Linked DNA regions of Homo sapiens. The protein of the gene in region 6 interacts with the protein of the main gene of each other region in a pairwise test. Each region holds a gene or a part of one and is shown on either strand. Other genes may lie near its edges.

What was found.
Region 1: the proteins of NDEL1 (region 6) and CEP135 interact in binary tests that used the Homo sapiens proteins (3 or more experiments, as listed by UniProt).
Region 2: the proteins of NDEL1 (region 6) and DIXDC1 interact in binary tests that used the Homo sapiens proteins (3 or more experiments, as listed by UniProt).
Region 3: the proteins of NDEL1 (region 6) and NUP54 interact in binary tests that used the Homo sapiens proteins (3 or more experiments, as listed by UniProt).
Region 4: the proteins of NDEL1 (region 6) and CENPF interact in binary tests that used the Homo sapiens proteins (3 or more experiments, as listed by UniProt).
Region 5: the proteins of NDEL1 (region 6) and CEP63 interact in a two-hybrid assay, tested with the Homo sapiens proteins (2 studies listed by BioGRID and IntAct).
Region 7: the proteins of NDEL1 (region 6) and CCSER2 interact in binary tests that used the Homo sapiens proteins (3 or more experiments, as listed by UniProt).

The regions. Positions count from the first base shown.
Region 1 is NC_000004.12:56,017,640-56,022,375, reverse strand, and holds part of CEP135 (centrosomal protein of 135 kDa), read right to left. Parts: intron 4,729-4,736; coding exon 4,519-4,728; intron 3,024-4,518; coding exon 2,821-3,023; intron 1,701-2,820; coding exon 1,596-1,700; intron 1-1,595. UniProt on the Homo sapiens protein: Centrosomal microtubule-binding protein involved in centriole biogenesis. Acts as a scaffolding protein during early centriole biogenesis.
Region 2 is NC_000011.10:112,019,531-112,023,672, forward strand, and holds the end of DIXDC1 (dixin), read left to right. Parts: 3' UTR 1-3,123; downstream 3,124-4,142. UniProt on the Homo sapiens protein: Positive effector of the Wnt signaling pathway; activates WNT3A signaling via DVL2. Regulates JNK activation by AXIN1 and DVL2.
Region 3 is NC_000004.12:76,127,212-76,131,947, reverse strand, and holds part of NUP54 (nucleoporin p54), read left to right. Parts: intron 1-663; coding exon 664-718; intron 719-1,198; coding exon 1,199-1,292; intron 1,293-4,736. UniProt on the Homo sapiens protein: Component of the nuclear pore complex, a complex required for the trafficking across the nuclear membrane.
Region 4 is NC_000001.11:214,609,134-214,613,869, forward strand, and holds part of CENPF (centromere protein F), read left to right. Parts: exon of another isoform or gene 1-70; intron 71-886; exon of another isoform or gene 887-4,446; intron 4,447-4,580; 5' UTR 4,581-4,621; coding exon 4,622-4,736. UniProt on the Homo sapiens protein: Required for kinetochore function and chromosome segregation in mitosis. Required for kinetochore localization of dynein, LIS1, NDE1 and NDEL1.
Region 5 is NC_000003.12:134,491,722-134,496,457, forward strand, and holds part of CEP63 (centrosomal protein of 63 kDa), read left to right. Parts: intron 1-3,574; coding exon of another isoform or gene 3,575-3,599; coding exon 3,600-3,643; intron 3,644-4,736. UniProt on the Homo sapiens protein: Required for normal spindle assembly.
Region 6 is NC_000017.11:8,438,339-8,443,074, forward strand, and holds part of NDEL1 (nuclear distribution protein nudE-like 1), read left to right. Parts: intron 1-4,736. UniProt on the Homo sapiens protein: Required for organization of the cellular microtubule array and microtubule anchoring at the centrosome. May regulate microtubule organization at least in part by targeting the microtubule severing protein KATNA1 to the centrosome.
Region 7 is NC_000010.11:84,516,303-84,520,253, forward strand, and holds the end of CCSER2 (serine-rich coiled-coil domain-containing protein 2), read left to right. Parts: 3' UTR 1-2,215; downstream 2,216-3,951. UniProt on the Homo sapiens protein: Microtubule-binding protein which might play a role in microtubule bundling.

The DNA.
Region 1 (4,736 bases), on a different chromosome or scaffold from region 6:
TTTTTTCCCTTGGAGGATGGTGGGTAATACTGCACCGATGAGAATGTATGATGTAGGTGGATAGTAAAGAGCAAGAAAGACATGGTCATGAGGCTCAAGGTTTCGTTGAGGCAAGGAACAAGGGGAGGAACTGTGGGGAAGTCTATAAGCCTGGGCAATAGAGAGCTTGATTTAGGACTTTTGATTTGCAGAGAATTTAAGTTATCCTTAAGAAATGGAAATCATTATATATGTACAGTTTAGTACATTCAGAAACTAGATCTTCTAAATTACAAGAAATTATCAATCCTGCTTTCATGTCACTGCTGCTACCTACGGCTTACTTTTTTGTTGGTTTGTTTGTTTTTTGAGACAGGGTTTCACTGTTACTCAGGCTGGAGGGCAGTGGCACGATCACAGCTCATTGCAGCCTCAACCTCCTGAGCTCAATCAATCCTCCCACTTCGGCTTCCTGAGTAGCTGGGACTACAGGCACCCATCACCATGCCCCAGCTAATTTTCAAAAATTTTTTTGTAGAGATGGTGTTTTGCCATGTTGCTCACGCTGATTTCAAACTCGTGGGCTCAAGTAAATCCACCTGCCTTGGCCTCCCAAAGTGCTGGGATTGCAGGCATGAGCCACCAAGCCAGGCCTTTATGAAATCGTAAATATTGATTTCATAGCAAATTGTCACTATACTTCAAATAGCACATCACTACAAAGTTTTGACGTAAATAGGTAAGAATAACTCAAAAACTGATCTAACAAGCAATTTGGCCACTAATTGAGAATGAAATCTCAGGAATGCAGATGTCTATGGTATTAATATAGTAGGAAAGAGTAATGGAAGACAAGTAACTTGGCAACTGATTTTCAAGTTAGACTTCGATTTAAAGCAGGTCTCAATCCGGGTTAGTAACACCTGGGGATTAAATTTTTCAACGTAAAGCAAATGAACCAAAATATGAGTGAATATGAAAATTACCAAGCTGTAGGGAATACATTGAAGAGGTTAAGGGTACAGGTTTTAGAATTAAAATCTGTTTGGTTTCCTACCACTTACTATTTATGTGATCTCAGTTTCCTATAAGGTAGGCATAATAATAGATTGTTGGTGGGATTCATCAGACACTTATATAGTGTCTGGTCCACATTTGTTAACTGCTGTTACTATCTTCAAATCATTACCTTTATTATGATTTGTATGTGGAACATCCTACTTGAACCATACATTTTGGAGCTCTTATAGGGATTGTTGTTGCTTCTCTATACTCTTTGAAATACTTTTGGATTCTAATTTTGTCCTGCGGAATGCTATAGGAAATATTTATCCAATACTTCCTATTTTACCTTATTTTTCAGATTATTAAACAATTTTATTCAATAAATATTTATATAGCATCCGCTATGTAATACTTGCTATTTTAGTTACTGTAGAGCTATTATCTTCCCCAACACTTGTTGCCTTTTTTAAAAGGAAGAATTACCAAAGAAATGTACTTTATGTATTAGCTTTTTAAAAAGTTTGTTATTTGTAAAGCCATATTAAATACTTTCTGAAGTACAATAGAGAACACATAAAAACATTGTCAAATGTAAAAAAAATTTGTCTTACCGTTCGTATCTTTCAGTTGAGATCTGCCTTTTCAGAGCATCATAATCTGTTTGTAACTGTGCCACTTTAGCTCGAAGCATGGTGTTTTCCCGGCTTTGACTAGTTCTTAAAAACAAATTAAAAAATCAAGAAATAAACGTTCCGTTTTGTAGAGTCAGGTGCTGTGGGTTTTTTAAATTAATAAAGAGAAGATCAAGACCTTTCAACAAGAATTCTCTAAACTTCTAGAGCTTTTATCACATTTTCTTTTTCATTCATTTAGTTTATTTATGAAACATGTACTGAACATCTATTATGTGCTAAGCACTAAAGCAATGCTAGGGATACAAATTTGAACGAGACATAAATGGTAACACCAAGATGTAAAGTGTCTTCATTGGCTCTTTCTTGACTCTTGCCTTGGAAAGAGAAATATTAATATTTTTAATACCTTTCAAAAGCTCATTCTTCCATGTGTACTCTACTCTGGGTTTCTTTCCCTCTTCCTACAAATATGTCTAAATCCTTCTATTCTAAAAATATGACATAATCAGTCTCTCCCAAAGTAATCAATACATGTATGTGGGTCAAATCTCATAGCCTTTTTAGAGTCCTTTTTCCTAATCTACAGCATAAGACACAGCCACCTCTTCTTCTCCCGAGAACACTTTCTCCTTCACTGACTCCTCTGTCCATTCCTCAACTGTAGGCGCTTTCCTAACGTTTTCTCTTCTCATTACTCCCACGGTACAACCTCTGTAGTGAAGATATACAGGTCTGCACCTCCCAACACGATGTTTCTCCCGAGTCAGTCTCCTAAATTTCCAAAAGCAGCAGATGTATAAGCCAAATATTTTGGTTTTGGGACAGCGTCTCGCTCTGTCGCCCAGGATGGAGTGCAGTGGTGCAATCTCGGCTCACTGCAACCTCCACCTCCTGGGTTCAAGTGATTCTCACGCTTCAGCCTCCTGAGTAGCTGGGACTATAGGTGTGTGCCACCACGCCTGGCTTTTTTTTTTTGTATTTTTAGTATAGACGGGGTTTCGCCATCTTGCCCAGGCTAGTCTCAAACTCCTGAGCTCAGGCAATCTACCCGCCTTGGCCTCCCAAAGTGCTGGGATTACAGGTGTGAGCCACTGCACCTGGCCTATCTTTCATACTCTTAACCTTTCCTCCACTTCAAAAAAATTAAAAAACTATCCTTCACAAGCAATTGTCTTTGCATAAGTTGACTTAAGACACTTACAATTTGCTTTCAGAAAGGGTTAACTTCTCCTTAAGTAGCTGGATTTCTGTATCCTTCTCGTGGGAGGTTAAGTGAGAATGAAATTCTTTATCTCTGTTTGTAGCCAACAATGATTCGAGGTTTTTAACTGTATGTCTCTCATTTGAAAGTTGTTTTTTCAGTAGGTCTGACTCTGACTTTACATTTTCTAATTCCACCACAACCTACGTGAAAAACAAAGTAAGATTACTTCAGTACAATTTTAAACTTACTCTGAAAAAATTATTTATCTGACAATATAGCTCTGTGGAACTATTCACCTATCACTTGTTTCATTTTGGGTATGGGTTAAAGATTATGAACTGTTTCTTTAAGTATAAGAAAGACACTTTATTTTCAAAATAATCTTTGCTATTTTTACTATGGGCTTATTTGGCTATAGGATCTACTCAAATCCTCAAATAATTTTTAGTCATGGTACCTTATCAAGAGACGGTCATTAAGATAAAACCACAAGGGCAATGAGACCCTTCTGGTTGAATATGCTTACTCTGACTACATAATCAAGCCAGTATTATAGTTTCTCAGTACCTGAAAATAAAGATACTACTAGATGAGTGAAAATTGAAAACATCCATGTTTGAAAACAAACACTAGGTTATTTAAAGTAATGCCTCCATCTGGGAAAGGTAAATTCTAGCTAAATAGACTTGTTTAATTAAGATTTAAACACCTTGAGATTTTTATCGGGAAAAATATTCTACTTCGGAAGCACTGAACTGTTCAATCCTTCATTCAAGTCTTACTTTTTTTTTTTGAGACAAGGTCTCACTCTGTTGCCCAAGCTGGAGTGCAGTGGCACAATCTCTGCTTACTGCGGCCTCGACATCCTGGGCTCAAGTGAACCTTCCCTGCCTCAGCCTCCCGAGTAGCTGGGACTATAGGCACATGCCACATGCCTGACTAATTCTTTGTATTTTTTGTAGAGACGGGGTTTTGCCATGCTATCCAGGCTGGTTTCAAACTCCTGAGCTCAAGCAATCTGCCTGACTCGACTTCCCAAAGTGTTGGGATTACGGGTGTAAGCTATCGTACCTGGCCTCAAGTCTTACTTTTAAACAGAGAAAGAATGTATTAGGATATGCTGATTTATAATCAGAAAATTCATAATCTCCTAGATAGCCATCTATTCCAAAACATTACCCACTTTCATCACTACGTTTGCCTGAGAAATCTTGCAAAGAATCAAGCAGTCAAATCTGGTTGTCAAAATCCTGTAGTCAAAAGTAACTATTGTAGGCTGGGTGCAGTAGCTCATGCCTGTATCCCAGAACTTTGGGAGGCCAAGGCAGGCAGATCACGTGAGGTTGGGAGTTTGAGACCAGCCCGGCCAACATGGTGAAACCCCATCTCTACTAAAAATACAAAAATTAGCCAGGTGTGTTAGCAGATGCCTGCAATCCCAGTTACTCAGGATGCTGAGGCATCCTGAGATGCCTGAGGGAGAATTGGTTGAACCCAGGAGGCGGAAGTTGTGGTGAGTTGAGATCGCACCACTGAACTCCACCAGCCTAAGCGACAGAGCAAAACTCCATCACAAAAAAAAAAGTAACTACTCTAAAAGGAAACAAGTATATGCATGGTGTGGTGAATACTAAAGTAAAATAATTAGAGTAGGGCTCAATAAAACAATGTGCCAAGACAATTTATCTTTCTTACCCTCTCAAACTCAAGGTTTTTCGAATTCAATTGCTGGGTCATAATATCTTTGCCTGAATCAAGTTTAATGCAAAGTTCTCTAAGAGATGACAAGTCATTTAATACTGTTGCTTTCTCATCTTCTTGATGTCTCAGCTCTTCTTCTAATCGAGACATGGCTTTTGCCATTGATGAGATCTGAGATTCATAAGCATGATGGGCATTTATGTGCTGAAAAA
Region 2 (4,142 bases), on a different chromosome or scaffold from region 6:
TGAGGTGGTACCAAAGATGAAAGCCCAGACTTCAGTAATCTTTTGAACCAGACGTGGATGGTGCTGAATTGTTGCTTGGATGGAAAAAGGGCTGCCCATGTTGTGCTACACTATGCTAAAACTGTAATTTAGTAAGACCTTGGGCTGCCTCTTCTGTCTTAACTGGTTCTGCAGCTTGTCCTTTTGCCCACATAGGGCCTATTTCATGTACTGTTAGTTTTCTCTGGGGACTCTTTAACTTTAGAGCCATTTCTTTTTCTTCAAACTGATGAACTTTTGTTTGAAAGGCATAAGGAGTGAAAAGCTCCTTGAAAATCCAGGCGGGTATGGAAAGGTGCTGCTACCCATATCTTTTTGACTTTCTTTGTTTCATGACTTTAACTCATGGCATCTCCTTTGTAGTAAAAGGAGACAGACCATTAATTTCAGCATTTCTTTGTGATTTATAAGTACTGAGCATGAAGTACTTGTCTGCCCCTCATTTCAAGGCCAGAGTTATTTTCTATTTATGTATTAGTCTAGGCTGATCTTTTAGGGCACAATAGAAACCATGGGGCGTGGAGCATGAGTTGTGAATGGCAGGGATCATTCTGGGTAAAAAAAACCTAGAATCATTTCTGATGTGCAACATTGTCAAGTGAAGAAGCTAACAGTTCAACTACCGAGATTATTTGATAACCTGGGTTTTCTCATTCATCCATCAAGCACCATCAACCAGTCAGCCATTATTATTTATATATGTATTACCAAAAGCAGTCTATCTGCCTGTGACCTCCAATGTACACTGCCAAACACAAGAGTAGGACACATCTGTTCTGGGTTCTTGACCTATCTGTCTCCAATTCATCTCCCCTTTTCAGCCATTTCAACAAACTACTCTTTGGAGCTCTGAGATGACATCTTGTTGTTTTATATAGATGTATCTTTTAAAAATAGTTCACGTTTGGAGAATTCTTTTGTACTCATTTGCTTTTTGTCTGAGAACCATGTCTATTTTTATAACTGGAGTGTGAGTTCTGTATCTTCTCACATTCTGTATACTGTATCCATTTTCTAGAGAACCCAGTAGCTTTTATACAGTCTCTTCTTACCACCCCTTGTGGTTTCAGAACAAGCTTTATTTTATTACGAGTATATTAATGACAACTAATTCCTGTTCCAATTCTACCTGTTTTAGTTGTGAAGGTAGTTTTGTGTAATCCAGTTGATTGCTCCTCTGGCAGAGAGAAGGAGCTCAAAAGATACTTGATGTCTTTCATGTAAGTTTACCTGGTCTTTTCCTATTGAAGAATTTTTCATCAGAAACGACTGGGAAAGTTTGGGAAAGTCAGCAAAAGAAAGAATGCATTTCGAAAGCAAACAGAAGAAAAAAGTATATTCTCACAGTTTTTCCCCAGGAAGTCTGGAGAAAAAGTCCTCATGTCACCAATTTCTCTGTTGCATGAATTTTAGTGTTTTGCTATAAGACAGCATGAGGGCTATCAGGCCAAAATTCATTATTGTATTTCCAATACAGTTTGTCTTGAATGTCTGTCTCTTAAACCAGTTTTTACTTGTCAGTTTTCTCTCAGCAAACAGTCTTACTATTATGTGGAATTTAACTTTTCAGAGAAAATTTCCAAAGTCCTCTACCTTATTTGGCTTTTATCTGTGTCTTTTGGAAAAGGAGCTGCATGGCCTCAGTGCCTCCATAAAAAGCTTAAGTTGAGTTCATGGGAGAACATTAAGATCGTTTTTTTTCCCTTTTAGCTCGGTAATCTCATGTACCACAGGTAATGACCAAGCATCTCTGCTAGAGGATGTAACTCTCATAACTCCTGTGTAAAATGAGGATCCTGTTGGTGATCCTCATTCCAGTTTCCAAAGCGAGAGGAGCCTTCTGAGCAGAAGTATGCAAGACTGATTCTGTTTGGAACAGTTTCCTATTTGGCTGCATTCTAGGAGGCCTCCTGACTTATTCATAGTATTGTCGCCTGGTGGCATTGGTGTGGGGTAGCTTGTCCTGCTACTTGCTAAAGTTCTCTTTCTTTGAGAAAACTGAGGAACCAGAATGCTTAGAGTTCATAAAATAATCTCTAAACCATGTTAGGTTAAAACAAAATGACCATCTCACAAAAACGAGTTTAGTTGAATGCTCAATTCCTTACAAAATCTTCATTTAAGGCTGAGTGTGGTGGCTCATGCCTGTAATTCCAGCACTTTGGGAGGCCGAGGCAGGAAGACTGCTTGAGCCCAGGAGTTCAAGACCAGCCTGGGCAACGTAGGAAGACTCCGTCTCTACATAGAAATTTTATTATAAAAGTAGCTGGGGATGGTGGCACACACCTGTAGTCCCAGCTACTCAGGAGGTTGAGGTGGGAAGATTGCTTGAGCCCAGGAGTTTGAGGTTGCAGTGAGCTGATCATGCCACTGCACTCTAGCCTAGGCTACAGAGCAGGACCCCATCTCCAAAAAAAAAAAAAAAAAAGTCATTTAAAAACTGAAGAATGTTCTCTTCTTGCTCAGTTCCCTAAATTAGCTGGGGGGATTGGGATACTTTACAATTTTTACATTTTTAAATTTGAAGAATTTGTTTTAAACTTACTTGGTAATGGCACTTCTACTTACTGACCAACTTTTCAGCTCTTTTTGACCAGGATGGTTGCAAATTAGGGAAAATATCTTTATACTATACATCCAATTCAAGAGGACTTTAATTACTTAAAAGCATTTAGGTCATAATTAAAATTATTTTCACTGTTTCCATAAAATAAGCATTATGATTGCACACTCCTTCTACTGTCTGAATTTATGTAAGAGGTATAGCTTGCTTAAAATACATATATATGTAAAGTTATATTTTCTTAGAAACATGGATGTTTACAGCCATTGCTTTCAAAGAGATTATTACTGTGTATTCTCCCTGTTTTACAATATGTTTTCATGAAGACTATGTTACACCAGAGGCTTCTGATTATCAAAGTGATAACCAGTTTTAACTGCCGGTATGTACCAGATTTGTGAACTAATTTAAAAAACCACAAACTATGAATAAAATGGGGTTTGCAAACTAAATATCATTAATGATTTTCACTTGCGTTTACTGATGAGATTAATCAATAAAGCCATTTACATTTAGTGAAAGCAAATTTCCTCAAGTGATCTCCCTGGTAGCATGTTTACTCACTATGTGGAGTGGAGATAAGAATTACTTTATTGCTACAGATATTTTACAATTAGTATTTCTATGTAAGCACATAGGCTATTATCAAGGACAATTTATTTAGCACTTATTTTGAAATTATATGTAAACATGCAAACAAATAAGAACCCAAGAGTATAAACTCTATGACAAAAGTCAGTATGCAAGCATTAAGAACTCTTTCAGAAATGTGTATTTAAAATGACCAGAATTCCCAGATCATTTGAAAGCTGCCTCTTAAATGCCTCTTATCAATTCATCTTAAATGTTTGCTATATTAAATTCTTTATCCCTGAGTGCCTTCATTTGACTTCCAATTACGTATTTTCAACTATTAATTGGCTATCCCATTATGTTAAAATTAAATATGTACATAACTCAAAATCTTTCACTACCAACTAATTTCTGTTTCTCTCAATATCAGTGATATCACCATTCTCTTAAGTATCTCTATTTCAAACCTTTGAGTCTTGAGTCTCCTTTTCCATAATTTCCTTTATCCAGTCTGTTTAGTGGAATTCAAGCTTGTTCTCTCAGGACTGATTTGAGAAACCTAAGCATTCCTAGCCCACCTCTGGGGTAAGCTCGCCATCTCTGGACTGTTTGAGCTATGCATTCCTATAATTTAACTACACTTAAGTCAAAAGTATATTCAAGACACAAACTCGCTATTCTTTGAAAAATGCAAAACAGGGTTTAAGCAAGCATACCTAAGTGCACAACAGATCCGGAAGATCACCTCATACTTTATACCAAAGTCTAATTTAGATCCAGTTATTAAGTTCAAATGCAGCAAAAGCAGCAAGATATTTTAGCCAACTCAAAAACATTTTTATAATAATTTATAAGTCCTGGGCGGGCATGGTGGCTCGCGCCTGTAATCTCAGCACTTTGGGAGGCCGAGGCAGGTGGATCACCTGAAGTCAGGAGTTTGAGACCAGCATGACTAACATGGTGAAAC
Region 3 (4,736 bases), on a different chromosome or scaffold from region 6:
AGATAAATCTTACTGTATTTAAACATTGCATAGTATTCCATGGATACACCTTTACTTAACACCTCTAAGTTGTTTTCTTTTTACTATTATAAACTGTACAGTAATTAACAATATCCTTGTAAACATGTCTTAGAACACATTGGTATATATTTCTTTAGAATAGATCTCTGGTAATGAAATTTTTGAGTCAATATTATGTATGTTAGATATTGCCAAATTGCCCTCCAGGGAAAGTTCTACCGTTTATATTCATAACAGGAATGTTATTTTTTCTGGCCACTGATGGCAAAATAATTAATTTAAAAATTAATACTTATTTTTAATATGTTTATTAGCTACATTTATATTTTTTGTGAGTTACCTATTTGTGTCCTTTGCCCATTTTCTAGATTTTTTTGTCTTCCTTTTTGATGTATAGGAACTCTTTCTATATTCTGGAGGTTAATCTATTATCCTATAGGTTATAGATAGTTCCTTTCAATCTGTGCTTTTTTTGAACTTTATTTATTCTGCAAAAATTTGTATTTTTACCATGATTATATTTGACAGTCACTTTTCATTATAGCTTCTAGGTATAGGGTCTTGCTTTAGGAAAGCCTTTGTCATACACATATTATAAAAATAGAAAATTGTTTTAGAAAAAATATTTTTTATTTGTGGTAGGTGTTGATCCTATTATCTGGGAACAGGCCAAGGTAGATAACCCTGATTCTGAAAAGTAAGTATGTCTTCATCTTGTTTCATTTAAGAACTAATATTTGCTACTAGGAAAGCAAACATGGGAGCTATTAATTATAATTCTTACATATGAGACAAGTTTATTTTCATTTTCCTGGCCTTTAAAAAATATTGATTATTGTCCAGCTAAAGCTTCAGCCAAAACAAAAAGAAAAAAATAAGAAAAAAAAAGATTATGGTAAGGCAGCATAGCATAGTGAGAACTAACTAGGAGCGGAAAATTCTATTTGCGTTTTCATTTAATAATGTAATGTTTTGACTGAACTGTATTTCCTCATTTGTAAAATAGGGAGGTTGAATAAAATCTCTTTGGTATAACATGGTTATCTCATAGTCATAGATCTGCCTTAGAGCCCTAGAAAGTTGATGTAAAATTACATGAGTGTTACTAAAACCTTCACTTCTTGTATTTTGTAGTAATAGGCTTAAGGTCTGAAAATTGTTCACTGCGTTTCTTCAGGTTAATTCCTGTACCAATGGTGGGTTTTAAGGAACTTCTCCGAAGACTGAAGGTTCAAGATCAGATGACTAAGCAGCATCAAACCAGATTAGATGTAAGCATTTAGCTTTTTATTCCCTGGCCCTGGAAGTAGGGAAAGGGATTATAGACATTTAATTCTTTTTAGTATATGTGCTACTGTTTTATCTTAATCAGGAAACAATGTAGCATACACTGCAATTTAATAGTTTTATACAACTACCTTCTTTATGATAGAAGTCCCCAAATCACATGAATCTGATTTGATATAATAATGAATTTAGAATTCTTGTCTTAGTGGATTAATTAGACTGTCATTTCCAGTTTCAGCCAGGGATTGCATATTATTATTTATGGGGCCTTATGAAAATGAAGGTTATAGTAATGATTATTTTATGTTGACATATAATTGTCTTGGTATATTATTGTATGTTGATAAAATTAATGCTTAAATATACTTAATATTTTATTTCATAAAGTAGACTTTTTTAGGAGACCAGGGTGGGTGGATCACTTGAGATCAGGAGTTCAAGACAAGCCTGGCCGACTTGGCAAAACCTGGTCTGTACTAAAAAATTCAAAAATTAGCTGGGTGTCGTGGTGCACGCCTGTAATGCCAGCAACTTGGGAGGCTGAGGCATGAGAATTGTTTGAACCCGGGAGGCAGAGGTTGCAGTGAACAGAAATCGTGCCACTGCACTCCAGCCTGGGCGACAGAGTGAGACTCCTCAAAAAAAAAAAAAAAAAAAAAAAAAAAAAAAAAAACTTTCATAATTAAATACTTAAAGATTCTTAAAGGTCAGAGAAATTTCTATGATTTCAATTCTTTTAACTTTGCTAAGGTTTTTTTTTTTTTTTTTTTTTTTTTGAGACGTCTCTCGCTCTGTCGCCCAGGCTGGAGCACAGTGGCGCGATCTAGGCTCGCTGCAAGCTCCACCTCCTGAGTTCACGCCATTCTCCTTCCTCAGCCTCCGGAGTAGCTGGGACTACAGGCGCCTGCCACCACGCCCGGCTAATTTTTTGTATTTTTAGTAGAGACGGGGTTTCACCGTGTTAACCAGGATGGTCTCGATCTCCTGACCTCGTGATCCACCCATCTCGGCCTCCCGAAAGTGCTAGGGTTACAGGCGTGAGCCACTGCGCCCGGCCAACTTTGCTGAGGTTTTATAACCCAGGAGCCTATGAAAATAATGTGTATTCTGCAGTCCTTGGGTGAAGTTTTCTATTAATGTCAGTGAGATCCAGTTGGTTGATAGTATTGCTCAGTTCTGTATTCTTGTTGTTTTTTCTGTCTGCTAGTTTGAGAAGAGATTTGAAATCTACAGCAACACTTACGGATTTGTGTTTTTCTCCTTTCATTTCTCAGTTTTTGCTTCATGTATTAATAGTTTGAAGGGCTGTTGTTATATAGGATTGTTGTGTTTTCTTGGCAAATTTACCTTTTATTATTATATCATATCCCTCTTAATCCTCGGTAAGTTTTAAATCTTCTCTAATGGCCTTTTCTTTTATTGTTTTTAATCGATACATAACTACATATTTATGGGGCATAGTGTGATAATTCAATACATGGATATAGTGTGTAATGATCAAATAAAGTAATTAGCATATCCATTACCCCATACATTTATCATTTGTTGGTATCATGGGAAATTCACTCCTATAGCTATTTGAAACACAATAAATGGTTGTGAATTATAGTTACCTATAGTGCTATAGAACACTGGAACTTAATCCTCCTATCCAGCTGTACTTTTGTATCTGTTAAGCAACCTTTGGCAGTTCCCTACTCCTACTCTTTCTCCACCTCTAGTAGCCACTATTCTACTCTTTTCTTCTACTAAATCAACTTTTTTTAGCTTCCACATATGAGTGAGAACATGCAGAATTTATCTTTCTGCACGTGGCTTATTTCACTTAACAAAATGTCTTCCAAGTTCATCTATGTTGCTGCAAATGGTAGCACTTCATTCTTTTTCATGATTAAATAGTATTCTATTGTGTGTGTATATATGTGTACACATACACACCATGTTTTCTTTATCCATTCATCTGTTCATGGACACTTACTCAAGACACTCAGAAGTCTTTGTCTGGTGTTAACATAGCCACGCTACCTTTCTTTTGATAAAAAGTGTTTGTATGGCATACCTTTGTCCATCTTTTTGCTTTTAACCTACCTATATTGTTATATTTGAAGCGAGATTCTTGTAGACAGCAAAAAGTTTGGATTTAGTCCTACCATTTATTTGTTTTGTGTTTGTAGCCTCTGTTTTTCATTCCTGTTTCTACTTTTCTGCTTTCTTTTGAGTTATTTGGACTTTTTTTTTTTTTTCAGCATTTCCTTTTAATCTATTATTTCAAGTCTTAGAGCAGTACTTCTTAGTAGTGGCTTGTGGTGGTGGTGGTGATTTTGTCTCCCAGAGCACATTTGGCAATGTCTGGAGACTCTTGGTTGGGGAGTACTACAGGCGTCTAATGTGTAGAGGCCCAGATGCTGCACACATTCTGCAGTGTACAGAACAGTACTCCCACAACAAGGAATTACCCAAGATTAATAGTGCTGAAGTTGAGAAACCTTTCTCTAGGTAATACGATGTATCTCCTCCCACTATAACTAGCAGACTTCCCTTGGAGCTCCCTTTCAGCATTTATGCTCATTTCCAGGTTTGAGGCTGGGTTGAAACCAGACTAGGGACGCCTGAGGGGAAAAATGGGTAAACTCACCACAAGTTTATTGGTACTTTAAATTCCTATCTTACCTGATCTTCCTGCCAGAGTTCCCAAATAGCTGCCCCGTGTATTCCATCCAAGTTTTATAGCTATATTAAATGGGAGAGATTGGGGTTGTATATGCTTAGTCCATCTTGTCCAGAACTGAAATCATTCATATCTTTGGCCAGTGTTTCCACTGGGCTTCCTATTTTTTCTTTATTGAACTTCAGTAATCATTTACTCTAGATTGTAGTCTCTGTTTATAACGTTGTAAATATCTTCTAGTTTCTCATCTCTTTGTTAATTCTGTCTTTGGTGTCTGTAGTTGAAGAGAAATCCTTAATTTTAATGTAATGATATCCATTAAATGTTTGCCTTGTATTTTCTTTTTGGGAATTTGCTTAAATAATTTTTCACCCCAAAGTCTGAGAGTATCCTACATTAAAAAAAATTTAGAGTTTAACCTTTCACGTTTGAGTCTTTTGTTGTCATCATGAAGTTTACCTTTATATAAAGTATGTGGTATGAACTCAGATTTATTTTTCTCTAAATAGTGGGTCCATTTTTTTTTTTTTTTTTTTTTTGAGATGGGGGTCTCGTTCTGTCGCCCAGGCTGGAGTGCAGTGGCGCAATCTCGGCTCACTGCAAGCTCCGCCTCCTGGGTTCACGCCATTGTTCTGCCTCAGCCTCCCAAGTAGCTAGGACTACAGGCGCCCACCACCACGCCTGGCTAATTTTTTGTATTTTTAGTAGAAATGGGGTTTCACCGTGTTAGCCAGGATGGTCTCGATCTCCTGACCTCGTG
Region 4 (4,736 bases), on a different chromosome or scaffold from region 6:
TGCCCGTGCGTCCGTCGGTCCCTCCGCGCCCCGGCCGGCCTCCTGCATCGCCACCGCCGCAGCTCCCCCCGAAGAATCCGCTTTGAATCTCTAAGGTTGTACTGTATATGTCTTTCCTGGTCAGTGTCTGTCTGGAGCATGACTTTACCACCTTTTGCAGTGATTCTAGTACTAATACGGCATTCACTCTTCATTCATGCATGCATTCATTATTAAAAAATGATAACTGCTTGGAAGGAGATGGGCTACCTGTGCTGTGAGTAACTATGATGGGAAACTATGGCCGGGTCAGGGATCTCAGAAAAGTTTCCCAGAGGAAGAGGGACAAAGTGTGAGTGGTAATTAACCATGTGAAGAGGGAAAGAGGAGCATATGCAGAATATCTTGTCATGCATTTTCTTTGTTTATAGGACCTATTTCACCTGAAAACCTTATGGCAAAATATTATTTTTTTCTTAGCTTTTATTTTTGGTTCAGGGGTACACATGCAGGTTTGTTTTACAGGTAGACTCATGTCATGGGGGATTGTTGTACAGATTATTTTGTTGCCCAGGTACTAAGCCTAATACTCAATAGTTATTTTTTCTTCTGCTCTTCCTCCTCCAACTCTCCACCCTCAAGGAGGCCTCAGTGTCTGTTGTTCCCTTCTTTGTGTTCATTTGGTTTTCTGTTCTTGCATTAGTTTGCTAAGGATAATGGCCTCTAATTCCATCCATGTTCCTGCAAAAAACCATGATCTCATTCTTTTTTATGGCTGCATAGTATTCCATGGTATATGTGTACTACATTTTGTTTATCCAATCTGTCACTGATGGGCATTTAGATTGATTGCATGTCTTTGCTATTGTGAACAGTGCTGCAATGAACATTTGTGTGTGCATGTGCCTTTTTTTTTTTTTTTTTTGGTAGATAAGGGATTTTGCCATGTTGCCCAGGCTGGTCTCGAACTCCTGAGCTCAAGTTATCCACCTGCCTTGGCCTCCCAAAGTGTTGGGATTACAGGCATGAGCCACTGTGCCTGGCCATGCATGTGTCTTTATGGCTGAATGATTTATATTCCTCTGGGTATATACCCAGGAATGAGATTGCTGGGTTGAATGGTAGTTCTGTTTTTAGCTCTTTGAGGAATTGCCATACTGCTTTCCACAATGGTTGAACTAATTTGCACTCCCACCAAAAGTGTATAAGTGTTCCCTTCTCAACTTGGCCAGCATCTGTTATTTTTTAACTTTTTAATCATAGCCATTCTGACTGGTGTGAGATGGTATTTCATTGTGGTTTTAATTTGCATTTCTCTAATGATAGTGATATTGAGCTTTTTTTCATATGCTTGTTAGCCACATGTATTTTTTTTTTTTTTTTAGAAAAGTGTTCATGTCCTTTGCCTACTTTTTAATGGGGTTGTTGTTTTTCTCTTGTAAATTTAAGTTCCTTATAGATGCTGGATATTAGACCTTTATCAGATGCATAGTTTGTAAATATTTTCTCCCATTCTTTAGGTTGTCTTTTTACTCTGTTGAGTTTCTTTTGCTGTGCAGAAGCTCTTCAGTTTAATTAGATCTCATTTGTCAATTTTTGCTTTTGTTGTGATTGCTCTTAGTGTCTTTGTCATGAAATATTTGCCCATTCCTGTGTCCGGGATGGTATTGCCTAGGTTGTCTTCTGTGGTTTTTATAGTTTGGGGTTTTACATTTAAGTCTTTAATCCATCTTGAATTAATTTTTGTATATGGTGTAAGGAGGGGGTCCAGTTTCATTCTTCTGCATATGGCTAGCCAGCTATCTCATCATTTATTGAATAGGGAATCCTTTCCCCATTGTTTGTTTTTGTCAGCTTTGTCAAAGATCAGATGGTTGTAGGTGTGCGGCTTATTTCTGGGCTCTCTATTATGTTCCATTGGTCTATGTGTCTGATTTTGTACTAGTACCATGCTGTTTTGGTTACTGTAGCCCTGTAGTATAGTTTGAAGTAGGGTAACATGTTGCTGTCAGCTTTGTTCTTTTTGCTTAGGCTTGTCTTGGCTATTTGGGCTTATTTTTGGTTCCATATCAATTTTAAAATAGTTTTTTCTAGTTCTGTGAACAATGTCTTTGGTAGTTTGATAGGAATAGCATTGAATATGCAAATTGCTTTGGGCAGTATGGCCATTTCAATGATACTGATTCTTCATATTCATGAGCATGGGATGTTTTTCCATTTGTGTCACTCTGATTTCTTTGAGCAGTGTTTTCTAATTCTTTTTTTTTTTGAGATGGAGTTTCGCTCTTTGTTGCCCAGGATGGAGTGCAGTGGTGCGATCTCAGCTCACTGCAACCTCTGCCTCCCAAGTTCAAGTGATTCTCCTGTCTCAGCCTCCTGAGTAGCTGGGATTACAGGCGTCTGCCACCACACCCAGCTAATCTTTGTATTTTTAGTAGAGATGGGGTTTCACCATGTTGGCCAGGCTGGTCTTGAACTCCTGACCTCAGGTGATCTGCCCGCCTCAGCCTCCCAAAGTGCTGGGATTACAGGCGTGAGCCACTGAGCCCAGCCTTCTAATTCTTATTGTACAGATCTTTCACCTCCCTGGTTAGCTGTATTTCTAGGTGATTTATTCATATTGTGGCAATCGTGAATGAGATTGCATTTTTGATTTGGATCTTGGCTTGGCTGTTGTCAGTGTATAGGAATGCTAGTGATTTTTGTATATTGATTTTCGTATCCTGAGAGTTGGCTGAAGTTGTTTATCAACTGAAGGAGCTTTTGGGCCAAGACTATGGGGTTTTCTAGATGTAGGATCATGTTGTCTGCAAACAGGGGTAGTTTGACTTCCTCTCTTCCTATTTGGATGCCTTTTATTTCTTCCTCTTGCCTGGTTGCTCTGGCCAGGACTTCCAATAGTATGTTGAATAGGAGTAGTGGAAGAGGGCCTCCTTGCCAGTTTTCAAGGGGGGAATGCTTTCAGCTTTTGCCCATTCAGTATGATGTTGGCTGTGGGTTTGTCATAGATGGCTCTTATTATTTTGAGGTATGTTCCTTCAATACCTAATTTATTGAGAGTTTTTAACGTGAAGGGATGTTGAATTTTTAATGAAAGCTTTTCTGCATGAGATAATCATGTCATTTTTGTCTTTAGTTATGCTTATGTGATGAATCATATTTATTGATTTGCGTATGTTGAACCAACCGTAAATCCTGGCGATGAAGCCTACTTGATTATGGTGGATTAGCTTTTTGATGTGTTGCTGGACTTGGTTTGCAAGTATATTTTTGAGGAATTTTGCATCGTTGATCAAGGATATTGGCTTGAAGTTTTCTTTTTTTGTTGGGTCTCTGCCAGGTTTTGGTATCAGGATGATGCTGGCCTCATAGAATGAGTTGAGGAGGCGTCCCTCCTCCTTAATTTTTTTGGAAACCAGGGGTACAGACAAAGTACCCTGTACACCCAACAGTAATCCCACAGGAGAAGGCAGAGGCCCCAGGCCATTTAATCAGCAGCAAGGTGATTATGTGATATGTCTTTTCACAGTTGAGTTAGATGTACTCCACCAGTTATGATGGGAATCAATTTAAATATACTTTCTTGATCCCAGAAATTCAAGTATGTGGACAGGATGTTACACATGGCAGGATGATTGTTACAGCGCAACTAACATATTTCAAATGGACAAAAAATTAGTATAATTTACAGTATCTTAAGATAAATTTCCTTTGAATGGGAGCTTCCTTTCTAGTCCTTTGAGGTCTACAAGGCATATCTAGAAAATTTACTACTGTGGAAGATGAAGACTGTTTAAATTGAATGGGGGGCAGGAAGGGGAAGGGCCTATGGTTTTTCTTTTTGATTAACTGCTGTAACCCTGTCCTTCAGGCAGCTGAAGGAGTGTCACATTTTCTTTAGACATCATTAGGCACCAAAGCTCTTGTAGGACAACTTTGATGCTACATGAATTCTGCCATTTTGCTAGCACTGATATGGCTTTTTGGTCCACCACTCCATTACAACTATTAACCCTATTTATATTAATTTTTGTTACAAATCTTACAAAGGCAGGGTGCTTCTGGGCATTTAGGATACATTCTATTTTAAGGCTGTATACTTGATTTTCGTAAATCATTCTTGGAGGCCCAATTATCATCCCTGTCCATCTTGTCCCAGGTCTTCATCATCTTCTAAACACCAGCTAACTATGCCACCTCCTACCTTTTTCTGGCCTTCTTCGAGTTCTTCCATCAGTTGGAAACTTCGAGAGACTTTTACTCCTGATCCTGTGGTGACTGCCATCTTGCATCACTGTTGCCCCATGTTTTGTATAATGAAAAAACTGAGCAATAGAAAGCAGGTAGTGATATAAGAAGTCAACACCGAGAAATAAGAAAAACAGAAAGCAAAGGGAAACTAAGCAGGACAGTATGTACTTCAGAATCAATTATTGGTTGCCACCTTTCAGAGGATGGAGAAGATAGGTATTATACTTTGTTATCTTTTGAAATGTGGTCTTGAAACTTGATTTTTAGGGGTGGTTAGATAGATTCATTAATTTCTGAGACTTTGTTTCCTTTTACTGTGGTAAGACCAACAGTCTGGTTATTCTTTTCAGTTTATTTACAAATGTTGGAGTAATAAAGAAGGCAGAACAAAATGAGCTGGGCTTTGGAAGAATGGAAAGAAGGGCTGCCTACAAGAGCTCTTCAGAAAATTCAAGAGCTTGAAGGACAGCTTGACAAACTGAAGAAGGAAAAGCAGCAAAGGCAGT
Region 5 (4,736 bases), on a different chromosome or scaffold from region 6:
ATAGTTTACTGGCCATGGTATATCTGACACAATCATAGAGCTTTGTAATGAAAACGACACCAAGGCAGGTACAGGGACAGAGAGCATTGTTATCCTCCTTTAGACTTGAAGGTTAGGCATATCCCTTCTCTTAGTATGTACACATTTATTCATAATTCTGTCTGGAGTTTTTATTTTCTTCCTGTGTCCCATTTTGTGAATAATTTGGTCTTGGGCATATACTATGATATTTTTCCTGATCTGTAAAATGATAAAGTTAAATTAGAGGCCTGAAGTGCTTTCTAGCTCATAAAGTCTATGTTAATGAATTTCAAAGATTTGCCTATTATAAGACATTCTATTTGTATTCTTTTTTTTTTTTTTTTTTTTTGAGACGGAGTTTTGCTCTGTCGCCCAGGCTGGAGTGCAGTGGCGCGATCTTGACTCACTGCAAGCTCCGCCTCCCGGGTTCACGCCATTCTCCTGCCTCAGCCTCCCGTGTAGCTGGGACTACAGGCGCGCGCCACCATGCCCGGCTAATTTTTGTATTTTTAGTAGAGACGGGGTTTCACCGTGTTAGCCAGGATGGTCTAATTTTATGTAATTATATGGCACATGCAAAGAAGAAATCAAAGTGACATAGTGCATAGAGTTGAATGATGGTCAGGTTGGTTAGGAAAAGAATCAGTGATATAACTATGAGCAACTCAGATGACAAACATCCACAGAAAATCAGCCCTTACTATTTGCCTGATCCTGAGAATTGATGGTGTTTGGCACCAGGCAGATGGTGAAGGTATTACAGAAACACTTTGCACATTAGTAAGTTTACTTTATTTCTCACATAGGATATTACTGGTCCACTTCCCTCCTTTTTTTTTTTTTTTTTAAACAGGAATCTCTATCTTAGACCATTTTGATTTCTAAAATAGCAATATTTCTTATGTGACTATTTCATTATTGTGCTGCTGCCACCTGGTGGCCACAGTAGTGATGTCATACTTCAGTTTAATTTCTTTTTTTATTGCAAAGACACTATTAAGCCAAAAGATAGGCTGATATATTTTAAGATATAGAATACTGTAAAATATATAAAGGTTGCACATCGATTGTGACTCAATTGATTGCCACAATGTCTAGGTTGAATCCAGGACTATAATTTTTAGTTTATCATAGTCAAGTTATTTAACTCTCTAAGCCTGTTTTCTCAAAGTAATAGTATCTGTCTTTTATGAGTATAGTGAAGATTGATTTAGACAATGTGTACAAGGCAGCTGTTGAACATTCAGTAACTTAACTTCTAAGTATATTATTAAATAGTCATAGAAAATATATTAATGTATATTACTAAATATATTAATGTTTAAGAATAACATGACCTAAATAAGTATAATTTTACTAATGATAATTTTGAATAACTGTGATAGCACTGTCAATAAGAATAGCACTTTCCTACATGTTAGTTAAGTATCCGTGTATGGTTGTCAGGAGCATGCTACTTACAGTGGACATTTAATTGGCTGTTAGAACCCATGAAAAAGCTGGAAGAAACCTTAGAGAATATTGTTCATGCCCCTCATTTTGCAGATGTTAAAACAAGTCCGAGAATATAAAGCTAGTTAGTTGCAGAGTAGGACTGTATCCTGGGTCTCCATCTAGTGTGGTGTGGACCGTGTACTGCCTCCCAGTTCTCCTAGAGTGGACCAAAACATGGAATCTTGGTTGCATTGTAGTTGGACTGTATTGTGATTTGAAAGTGGAGTAAAACATGGGAACCTTTTTCTTTAGGTTTTTATTTTTGCAATTTTGGTGTAATATGTAGGATAAACCAACTAGAAAAAAAATCCTCCCTGTCACGTTTGTGCACAAATAATTTAATACTCAGTTTGTTAGTATCTTTAAAAATAGATGCAAATAAGGTGCAGTGGTTCTATTTTCCAGTCTTCTCATTCTCCTCTGTGTCTCTGGAACACCCTGGGCATGTCTCTCACTATATTTATCACACTGGGAAAGCCTTTTTGGCTCATTTTTTTCTGTCCCATACTAGACTATTAATACCTTGAAAGGGGCCATATCTTTCATCACTATATATCTAGTTGTTAGTACAACATTGAATTACGTGTTGAGTAAAATAATCTACTTCTTACAGCAGTATAATTTTTAGATGAGGATTAGCCCAGGGGCAGAACCTCTACACCACAGTCTGGTTATTGTCTTAAGGGTTTAAGGAAAAAGCATTTTGGAATGAAAAGTGGTTTGACATTGAACATTTTGAAGATTTATTATAAAAGGCGAGAAGCATACACATATTAATCAACACTACTGAGTTTAAGGGTCCTCTTTCCTTTCTCACTGTCACCTTTCTTCATGGTGTATCTTACCCTTTATTTTATATTTATTTATTTATTTATTTATTTATTTATTTATTTATTTGAGATGGAATCTCTGTCTGCCACCCAGGCTGTAGTGCAATGGTGTGATCTCGGATCACTGCAACCTCCGCCTCCCGACTTCAAGCGATTTTCCTACCTCAGCCTCCCCATGGCTGGAACTACAGGTGCATGCCACCATGCCCAGCTAATTTTTTTTTTTTTTGGTAGAGGCGGAGTTTTACCATGTTGGCCAGGCTGGTCTCAAACTCCTGACCTCAGGTGATCCGCCTCCCTCGGCCTCCCAAGTTCTAGGATTACAGGCGTGAGCCACCGCACCCAACTGTATCTTGCTGTTTATATGGCAGTCTTCTATCTCCCGTTCCCTCTTTCTCTGCTAGACCCTTCATGTAGTTCCCCAGCTGTGACCAGTTTGCATGGGGGAGAGGGTAGGTAAAAGAGGGAGGGGAGTTAAGTTCAGCCAAAATAATCTGCCACGTGCCATGTTGAAATGCTGCGTTGAGCTCTGCAGCTGCAGAGATGAATAAAATTGGGTTTCTGCCCTGGAGGGATGAATAGTCTAGTAAGGAAAAATAGTATGTAAAAAACTCACTTCCAGTGTGGTGCAACTCCTATGAAAGAACGTATTAAGCACTGGGAGCAAATGAAGTGCAGAGGTGGGAGGGCCCTGTGGCTGCCTTTCGGTGGAGAGAGGATGTTGCATGCAGGAAGCTCTATGAGCCTGTCTTCAGGAGTGAGTAGGCTTTCCCATGATAGACCAAAGAGTTTAATCTCAGTACACTTCGCATTTTTTATACTATCTCTTTAATTTTTAAAAAGCTATACTTTCCCTCTGACATGTGTGAACCCATTTCTTTCTCATTTTGTTAAGGGAGTTTGTGTATCCGTCTGCTAGAGAGATCCCACCTCCACCCCTGCTCACCCGACATTAGGAATTAGGCAAAGAACAATGAGATATTTGATATTTACACGGAGAGAGTGTCAACCGCAATTCAGATATTTTTAAGTTATTCTGTTTTAGTCCGAAATAGTTTGTTCCTAGTATTCCTGAAGTGATGTTCTTTGACTGCTTCTACAGTCATCTTAAGAAGTGCTGCATTTTTTCATTATTATGTATGCTTTCATTCACATTCTTAAGTTGTAAGTTAGAATGTTAGAACTGAAGAAATGAATTGTCTCATGACTGATATTTTTTTCTTTGTCAGTTGCCAAAACAAAGGGGATTTGGTGATGGAGGCTTTGTTAGAAGGAATACAAAATCGAGGGCATGGTGGGTAAGTTTGCTTTTTTTAAAATTAATTTTTTTGGTTAATACATGATTACATATTTATAGGGTTCACATGATACTTTGATACATACATATAATGTGTAATGATCAAATAAGGGTATTTAGTATACCTATCAGCTCAAGCATTTATCATTTTTTGTGTTGGGAACATTTCAATTCTTCTAGCTACTTTGAAATATATAGTAAATTTTTAAAGTTTAAGGAACCTTACTGTGCTAGTCACCCGACTGTGCTAATTACTTAACTAGTTACATACTAGTTACTTAGTAGTCACCTTACTGTGCTATTTAACACTAGAGCTTACTCTTCTACCTAACTGTATGGTTTGTACCCATTAACCAAACATTCTTCACCCCCAACCCCTTCCCAGCCTCTGGTAACCATCGTTCTACTCTCTACCTCCATGAGGTGAACTTTTTTAGACCCCACATATGAATGAGAACATGAGATATTTGTCTTTCTGTGCCTATTATTTCACTTAACGACCACCAGTTTTATCCATGTTGCTGCAAATAACAGGGCTTCATTCTTTTTTATGGCTGAATAGTATTCCATGATGGATATATTTCTGACATTTTCTTTATCCATTAATCTGCTGTTGGACACTCAAGTCAATTCCATATCTTGGTTATTGTGAATAATGCTGCAATAAACATGGGGGTACAAGTATCCCTTTCACATACTGATTTCCTTTCCTTTGGATAGATTACCCAATAGTGTGCTTTCTGAATCATATGTGTTGTGAGTGGTGCAAAGTCAGACATAACCAGGTCCATACATGTTTGTGTCTTTTCTACAAGAGCAAACTTTTATTGATGCTATTTCAGTCATAAAAGCCACAAGCTACATGGAGTTCCCAAGGAGGCATTTCCCCCTAGTACTACCAGTTCACTCAATAGTCAGAGCCATGGGCATACAGGCTCAAGCCTCTCCACAAGTCAGTCAGTATTGCAAACCATACATAATAGTGTATTAATATATGTAAATGTTGCAGTGTAAACATTCCACATCAAACAAAGTAACATTTAACAGGAGAAAAGGATAGAAAAAAAAGGGGGGGGGGGCTAAAGAACTAGTCC
Region 6 (4,736 bases):
TCTATATTAGCTAACTTTCTATAGCCTGAATATCTCCAGTTACATAGTTTGAAATAAGTGAACACATCCTCCCAGTGTAACTTGAAGCAAACTGAACAGACTGTATAACAGCCCCTGAAACTGTCGTTTGAGTATCTGCAGTGGTAGCAAATTTTATTATTTGTAAATAATCTGATTTTTATTTTTATTTTTTTGGAGGCAGGGTCTCATTTTGTCACCCAGGCTGGAGTGCAGTGGAGTGATTACAGCTTACTGCAGCCTCAACTTCCTGGACTCAAGCGATCCTCCCACCACAGTCTCACGAGTAGCTGGGACCACAGGTGCATGCCACCACACCCAGCTCATTTTTGTATTTTTGTTAGAGATGGGGTTTCAGCATGTTGTCCAGGCTGGCCTTGAAGTTCCAGGCTCAACTGACATTCCCACCTCAGCCTTCCAAGTGCTGGGATTAATATGCGCGAGCCACTGTGCCTGGCCAGAATCTGATTTTTAAAAAGAGTAAATCTGATGGGTAAAAGTAGGGCAATAGAGCTGGATAATACCAGTTAGGAAGCAATAAAGATGAGGTGTGACCACAAAGTAAGAAGTTTTTGCTTTGTTCTTTTTTTTTTTTTTTGAAACGGAGTCTCTCTCTGTCACCCAGGCTGGAGTGGAGTGCGGTCGCGCGCTCTCGGCTCACTGCAAGTTCTGCCTCCCGGGTTCACGCCATTCTCCTGCCTCAGCCTCCCGAGTAGCTGGGACTGCAGGTGCCCACCACCACGCCCAGCTAGTTTTTTGTGTTTTTAGTAGAGACGGGGTTTCACCATGTTAGCAGGATAGTCTCAATCTCCTGACCTCGTGATCCGCCCGCCTCGGCCTCCCAAAGTGCTGGGATTACAGGTGTGAGCCACTGTGCCCGGCCTTTTTTTTTTTCTTTTATTTGAGATGGAATCTCACCCTTTTGCCCAGGCTGGAGTGCAGTGGCCAATCTCGGCTCACTGCAACCTCCTCCTCCCGGGTTTGAGCGATTCTCCTGCCTCAGCCTCCTGAGTAGCTGGGATTACAGGTGCCGGCCACCATACCCAGCTAATTTTTTTTTTTTTTTTTCATATTTTCGGTATAGACGAGGTTTCACCATGTTGGCCAGGCTGGTCTTGAACTCCTAACCTCAAGTGATCCGCCTGCCTCAGCCTCCCAAAGTGCTAGGATTATAGGCATGAGCCACCGCGCCTGGCCTGCTTTGTTCGCCTGCTTTGTTCTTAATGTGGCTCATAAAGGCTATTCCAAAAAAGAAGTTTTGGAAATGTTTTTCAGCAATGGTGATATCACTGGAATATGCATATATTCCTGAAATGATCAGTTTTAAAGAATCATTTGCATGTTTTAAATTTTGAAGCCTGTTTACTTTGTGGTCATACTTGAAAGGTCTGCTATCGAACTACCAATTTTTAATAGCTTGATGAACATTTAGGTTTTTACTATGTGCCAGGTTCTGTCCTAAGTACTTTACAAATATTAGCTCACTTCATAAGCTCATTCTAATGATTATCCCCATTTTACAGGTGAGGAAATGGGGCACTGAGTCATTAAGTCACTTGCCCAAGGTCACCCAAGTAGTGAGTAGATGCATCAGTAGCGAGTCTGAACTTCCAGGTCTGACTTCAGACTTGGGCAGTTTGGCTTCCCGGTCTGGGCTCTTAACCACTATGCTATGCTGCTCCTATGACTTATTCTTGGTTAAATGTTTTAAATTGTTTTGATCTGGAAGAGATGATGGTCCTTTTAGTAAATGATATCCAACATAGGTTATAATACTGTTAGAGGGGCCAATAAGCGGGTTATGAAAATAGCCTATTGATTAGAAAAGTTGTGGTCAACATTCAATTCACATGAGATTCAGCAAGAAAATAAAGAATGTGACCAGGCGCGGTGGCTCATGCCTGTAATCCCAGCACTTTGGGAGGCCGAGGAGGGCAGATCACGAGGTCAGGAGTTCGAGACAGCCTGGCCAACATGGTGAAACCGTGTCCTACTAAAAATACAAAAATTAGCCAGGTATGGTGGTGGGTGCTTGTAATCCCAGCTACTTAGGAGGCCGAGGCAAGAGAATTGCTTGAACCTGGGAGTCAGAGGTTGCAGTGAACTAGGATTGTGCCACTGCACTCCAGCCTGGGCAACAGAGTGAGACTCCATCTCAAAAAAAAAAAAAAAAAAAGAATGTGTGTGAAGTAAAATAATTTTGCTAGAATTACTTGACACTGAATGTAAGTAGTTGGACAAAGAGGATGCAAGGGCTAGAACTAGATTCTCAAAAAGTTTCATGCAAAAGGCTATTTAAAAACCTGAGTTATCAGGGGACACTCATGGAAAAGTTGGTGTTGTATTAAGAATATGTCCCTGTACAAGAACCAGAAGTCAGAGACAAATGGATACTCGCAATACATCCAGAGGGGTAAACAATGCTATTCCTCAGGGATTACTACTTAACTAGGTGCTCTTCAAAGCATTAACTGCTAGTATGTCCTCTGATACTATATAAATGGGTCAAAACCAACAAAAAATACCCCCACATGGAAATGTTTTGAAGTGGACTCCTGAATAACATTTAGAGATTCAAAACAATCCTAACTCTTTTCGTAGAAGAATTGGCCCCACATTCAAACACCTTCAAATAAATGTTAGATGCCAAGGAAGGTATCTAACAGTCATTAGGAACTTCCATAATGATACCGGTTCATGGGCCACACTACTAGCAATATCATCAAATGCTGCACAGTAACAGAAAGAGTACTGAAAACTCAAAAGAAAAATGATCTGACCAGTGAATAAAATGTTCAGTACAGAAGCAGCACTAGGCACTCAGCCCCAGAAAGGCAGATAGGTAATCTAGGGGCAATACAAAGCATAACAAAATATTTAAGGGACTGAGATGGCTGCCAAATCATTATAGGCTAAAAAGGCAAGAAATAATCACTTTGGGAAGACCAAGGCTGAGAGGTATTATCATCAAAGGCTACAAAACCAGAGGGGACATAAAAAAGGAGAATACAATTTTGTTCGCCAAATCCTGGAACCTTCCAAGAGAGCAGCACATGGGACTCAGGGCAAAGCTAAGACCAAAAACAGGAAGTTCATCGATGGCTATAAAGTTATGGAACTTATCCCAGTTGCTTCAAATAAGATAAAATCAATACATTACAAGTTTTAGACTTGAAATCATTAACTTACAAAATGCTTTATATAAGGATCAGGACTTTCTTCTATTGCTTTTTTTATTTTCCTGAGCTTTTAAATTTCTCTTTTTCTTAGTGACAGTAGAGTAACATGTCTTCACCACAACCTCAAATATATCTAGCTTCTCACTTGTGCTCTATGCTATCTGTTCTATGGGATTCCTTATTTTTCTTGGTGTCATCCGTCTGAAGCATTCTATGGGCCTGATGGACTAGGCTTCATCCTGGGACTTTTCATTGCAGCCCTAGGTTGGAGCCCCTATTTCCTGCATCCCATGCTGTCCAGGTCATGGTTTTCTCCCTTCTTTTGTACTTGTCTCAGGAAGTGTGTAGGAGGTAGCCCTCCTGACCTTTTTTTTTAAGTCTTTGTCTAGTACCTTCTGAGTTCTTGTATAAGAAAAAATCTCATTTCCTGAATTGTCTGTTTCCTCTCAGTTCACTAGGTCCTAAAATTTTCTTATTCATGCTACTGGGTTTTCTTACTTGTCAGATGGCTCTTGGTTGTCCATTTATATTTCAGGGCCGGATAATGATGATTTGAGGTAGCTAGTGTGCAGTGGTTATCTCTAAGGTTCTTCCCAATAAATCCCATCAACTCCCTATTCTTTGATGTGGAGCCTGTACTGAGCCTATGTCAGTGACTGAATGTGGCTGCCCATGTATCGGATTAATAATTTTGTCTAACTGATAATGATAGGTTTTCTAATATTGATTTAATATATGGTGGTACATTGTAAGGTGGAAGTAAACTACCCGCACATCTTTTTGCTTACTCCATTCCTGAAGTAGGAATTCAGATGTTAATAAAGTGGTACTTTGAAAGTCAAGAGGGAATATTGAAAGGATGATTATAAATCAGTTCACATATTTATTTATTTATTTTAGAGACAGGGTCTTGCTGTGTTGCCCAGGCTGGAGTGCAGTGGCACAATCATGGCTCACTGCAGCCTCAAAATCATGGCTTACTGCAGCCTCATTGCTTCTGGGCTCAAGCAGTCCTCCTGCCTCAGCCTCCCCATGTGTTGGGATTACAGGCATGAGCCACCGTGTCCAGCCTCAATTCAAATATTTATTGAACTTCCACTGTGTTCTATGTTTGATGATGTGGAGAGATTTAACCGTTCATTCCTTTAAAAAGATTTTTTTTTTTTTTTGCTAAACCTTCCTGAGTGGCTTGTGCTAGATAAACTCCAAGTTCTATGCATCTCCAGGTTTTTATTTATTTACTTTTTTTTTTTTTTTTTTTTTTTAGATTTTTAGACGGAGTCTCGCTCTGTCCCCCAGGCTGGAGTGCAGTGGCGCAATCTTGGCTCACTGCAAGCTCCGCCTCCCGGGTTCACACCATTCTCCTCCCGAGTAGGTGGGACTACAGGCGCCTGCCACCACGCCCGGCTAATTTTTTGTATTTTTAGCAGAGATGGGGTTTCACCGTGTTAGCCAGGATGGTCTCAATCTCCTGACCTCGTGATCCGCCCGCCTCGGCCTCCCAAAGTGCTGGGATTACAGGCATGAGCCACCACACCT
Region 7 (3,951 bases), on a different chromosome or scaffold from region 6:
CTTCTGATGGAGAAGCAGTGAAGTTCAGAACGTTCTTCACATAGTCCAGATACTGTTAGAGTCAGGCAAATCAGCAAAGCACTTTGTTATGGAGATGACCCATGATGGCTGCAGTTGTAAGTGGGCATACATGTTCTATCATTTTGAAGGAGAAAGAAAACCGTTCTCACATGTTGCAAATATGTGAATCATACTATATTCCCCTAAAGTAAAACCAGTGACTTAGTGGTTTTTGGTTTATTTAGAAGTTGGTTTAGACCCTTATGAAACATTATTTACGAGTTGGCCTTATCCTTAAGGGAAAAGTTCTAAATTTTTAAATTTATTTTTAATTCCCTAGTCTGAGGGAAATGTCTTTATTGTCCATTACATAAAAATGTTGACTCCAGTAATTTATTTTTCTCTATTTTTTCCTCCATGTATTTACTCCATTTTTCTCTATTTTTTCCTTCCCTGATGGATTTGCAGAAATGTTAACCAATTAGCTCAACTTTTCTCTACCTTTGTTGAGTCTTAATCTTTTAGAAGATAGGCTTATCGTATATTTATGAAGCATAATATATTAAAAGAAAACAAATCTAGGATGCTTGCATGACATAAAGTATTTGCCTGCAGTTTTCATTAAAAACTGCAAGAATATCATGCTTGTCTGCTTCTTAGTAAATGTTAAGTCTGAAATGGAAGTGAGGATGTAACTCTACTGAATAATCAAAGATCATCTTAGATTTGGCTTGATCTGTGTTTATTGCTTCTATTAATGTAAATCAACTCTGTGCCAAATCCTCCTCCACAAACCATTTATTGTCTTAGTTCTAGTGGTATCAATGAAGATAGTTACAGTATATGAATTCTAAGTCCTGAGGAAGAAATTTTATGGGGTTTGTTAAGTTTCACATTCGTGAAAGAGGAAATTAGTAGAGTATTCAGACTTTGATATTTGGCTGTTAATGGGATGCATATCAAATTTTTAAAAGAAGGCTTGGCCTAAGGAGTTTATTGGTACAGGTGCAGATGATTTTAAGGCATTAAAGGATTATAGAGTTATGTCATTTAGACTGTTTCTAATAACTGAGACCATCTAACATTTTTCTTTTGGAGTCTCATTTTTATTTGTGCAATATTTTCAGGCATATAGGCTACTGTTCATTGTATTTATATATATATTAGAATTTACTAAGTACTTTAACAAGTAAAAATCTGAATATGAAAGAAAATATCAGATTTGCACTTTAAATGAGCTTAATTGCTTGAAGTTGTGCCTGAAATATCGAATTGCCTCCTATTGGGTGTGGCTTTGTTGAAATAAATTTGTAATTGTTGCTGTTTGAAGATATCAGTACAGCTGTTCACAGAAATATATTCCCAGCATGTCACTTTTCCATTAAAGCACTAAGTTTTCTTTGAATGTTCCATTGTTCCGATAAGTATTTTACTTTTTTCTCAGTACATCAGAGAGAGCGTGATCCCCCTACAGCTGTCACTTCCAAATGTTCCTGTAGCATAAATGGTGTTACAGACACTGAGGTGCACTCTTGGTTTCTGAGCAGAGTTGTCATACTGGTTTCCTGGTCTCTAGGGCACTGGGGATGTACTTTGAAATCACCGAACAGGCTTGCAATTAAGATCAATAAGGCTGCAGCACCATTTCAATTTACTTTCCATCTTACCCAGTAGTTTTTGTGTTTTTAAATTCGTTTGGGTGGTTATGTTTGCATGCTTAAGCACACATTTGAAAATTAATTATAGCTGTACTACCCGATGTTTTTCCTTGGGGATGATGGCCTTGTTCCTTTTTAAATTCTGATGCTTGAATTCTATTTTCTAGTGATTTTTCACATCTCCCTTTAAGTTTTTGCTGCAGCAATTTGAGAGAGTACTTTTGATTAAATGATTCTGATGGTGGGCACCAATCTACAACTATGTCATTAACTGAAGATACATGTTTTAATCTTGTTGGGAATAAGCTTACCCACTTTCTCCTTGGTAAAGCGTTTACTTAACAAAATAATACCCGAGAATGTAAGGTCTCTAAGTCATTACTAACAAAGAGCAAAAATAATATCTGCAGTATTGTTTTTCCCATTGATTTTAAGTCAGTTTAGAGTACAAACTGTATATTAGAATTTGCCTGTAAAATGAATTCTAAAAAGCAGATGTAAAGTCTCTCCTGAAAATGTTGGCATAGTAAATAAAAATAAAGTTCATAATTATAAAAGTTCTCTTGTCTTTCTCAACATTGACTCCCATAGTTTGCTTTTTCTTTGATATCTTTTTTCCCACAAAGATCTAAGATACTGTTCATTTGCTTATGTTTTTCCCAACTCTGATACTTTATTTTACATGCTGCCTTCACACACATCTTGACACCCCAAGCCCTGATTGAGTAGGAGTTGATCAGTATTTTGTTGTTGTGTCTTCACAAATTCTGTAAGAGATCTAGTACTTTCGTTTCCATTGTAATAAAATACCTGCTTTATCTTAGAATATTGGGATAATGGTTAATGGACATTTCAAGAAACATTAGCACCTTGGATTTAGAATGCTGTACAAGGAAGAAAACACTTGTAATTTTAATTATTTTGTCATTGTTTTTAAGCAGTATACAAAATAGCTTGAGGCAAGAAAGGTGTTTAGTGAAATTTTACATAATTTTTAGGAACAAAAGGAGTAAGGAATATATATTTTTTCAGTTTTACAGTTTAGTCAGATGCGATAGTCCCGTAATAAGAGACAAAAAAGTTGATGCAGTGGTATGTTATTAATCCAAAATGTTTACACGAATTCTGGGAAAGGAGGGAAATTTTATTAATAGTTTGATAATAGCACTTATTACCTCTTAAGACACCTGTATGAACTTTAAGGCCATCTGAGTTCTTAGTGTTGCAGAATTTTGCTCCTTAGGTCGGCTAAATCGGGGTTCTTGTGTCAGGACCAGGAAAATGTAGACACATGGACACATTGAAGTGTGTGGGGAATGGAATTCATTGGGCAAAAAGGAAAAAAAAACTCAGCAAAGCAAGGGGGGAATCCTGCTAACAGGCCCCCACCTCACAGATAAGTTCCAGGCCACCACACATGTGAGCTGAAGAGCTCAGGCTCTTCCCTCCTGCCCAAGGCTGGAACTTCCCGTGGCTCCACCCAGTTCTCCCAGTGCACAAGCTGGTTGGAGATTCTCTGAGGACCCTCCCCCTTATTGGCCTTCTGCATCTATCATTAGCAAGTACTTTCTTATACTAAAAATTTTCCCTTTTAATTTTGTCATTAAGTGTAGTCATTTCAGTTTCTTCATTTATGCTGTTGATTGCGCGTTTTCCATTGTGAAAATATTTTATCCCTACAGAAAAGACAAGCATGAGTTAAAGAATTGACTTCTTCCTCTGTTAACTTGGTTTAAGTAAGTTTGATGGGATGTCTTACCTGTGTCACTTGCTGTGCTGGCTGCAGGGTGTACAAAGGTAACGATGATACAGGTTCTGCCTTATGGAGCTTAGGAACCCTAGGGGATTTTTAACATCATCCGATCCATTGCAGCACTGAGCCCTTCCCTTGCATTCCCTGTTTATTATCTTCCTTTGAACCTACCAGTCTCTTTTGACGTTTCCTCTTCAGTTTCATTTCATTCTGGGCTTTAACTCCCTTGCACTATTCTCCTCTTGGATTCTATATTATGTTTATTCTTGTTTGGTTGCATGCCTTCATTTCCCTAGAAAACCTGGCCTTTTATTATTTTATCCAAGAACGAACTTCCTCTTTAGCCACTATTAAATACTCTGCTTTCTACTTTAGGTTCTTGGAATTTGATTTTAAGACTTCTCGACTATCCTAAGGCCACTGTCCCTTTTAGAACCTCAACCCATAAGATGTTGCTTTCTGAAGTCTACCTTTAACATTCAAATTCATGTCCGGGCTTTTCCTTCCATCCCATTCTCTTGGATAGATCAAATATAATAT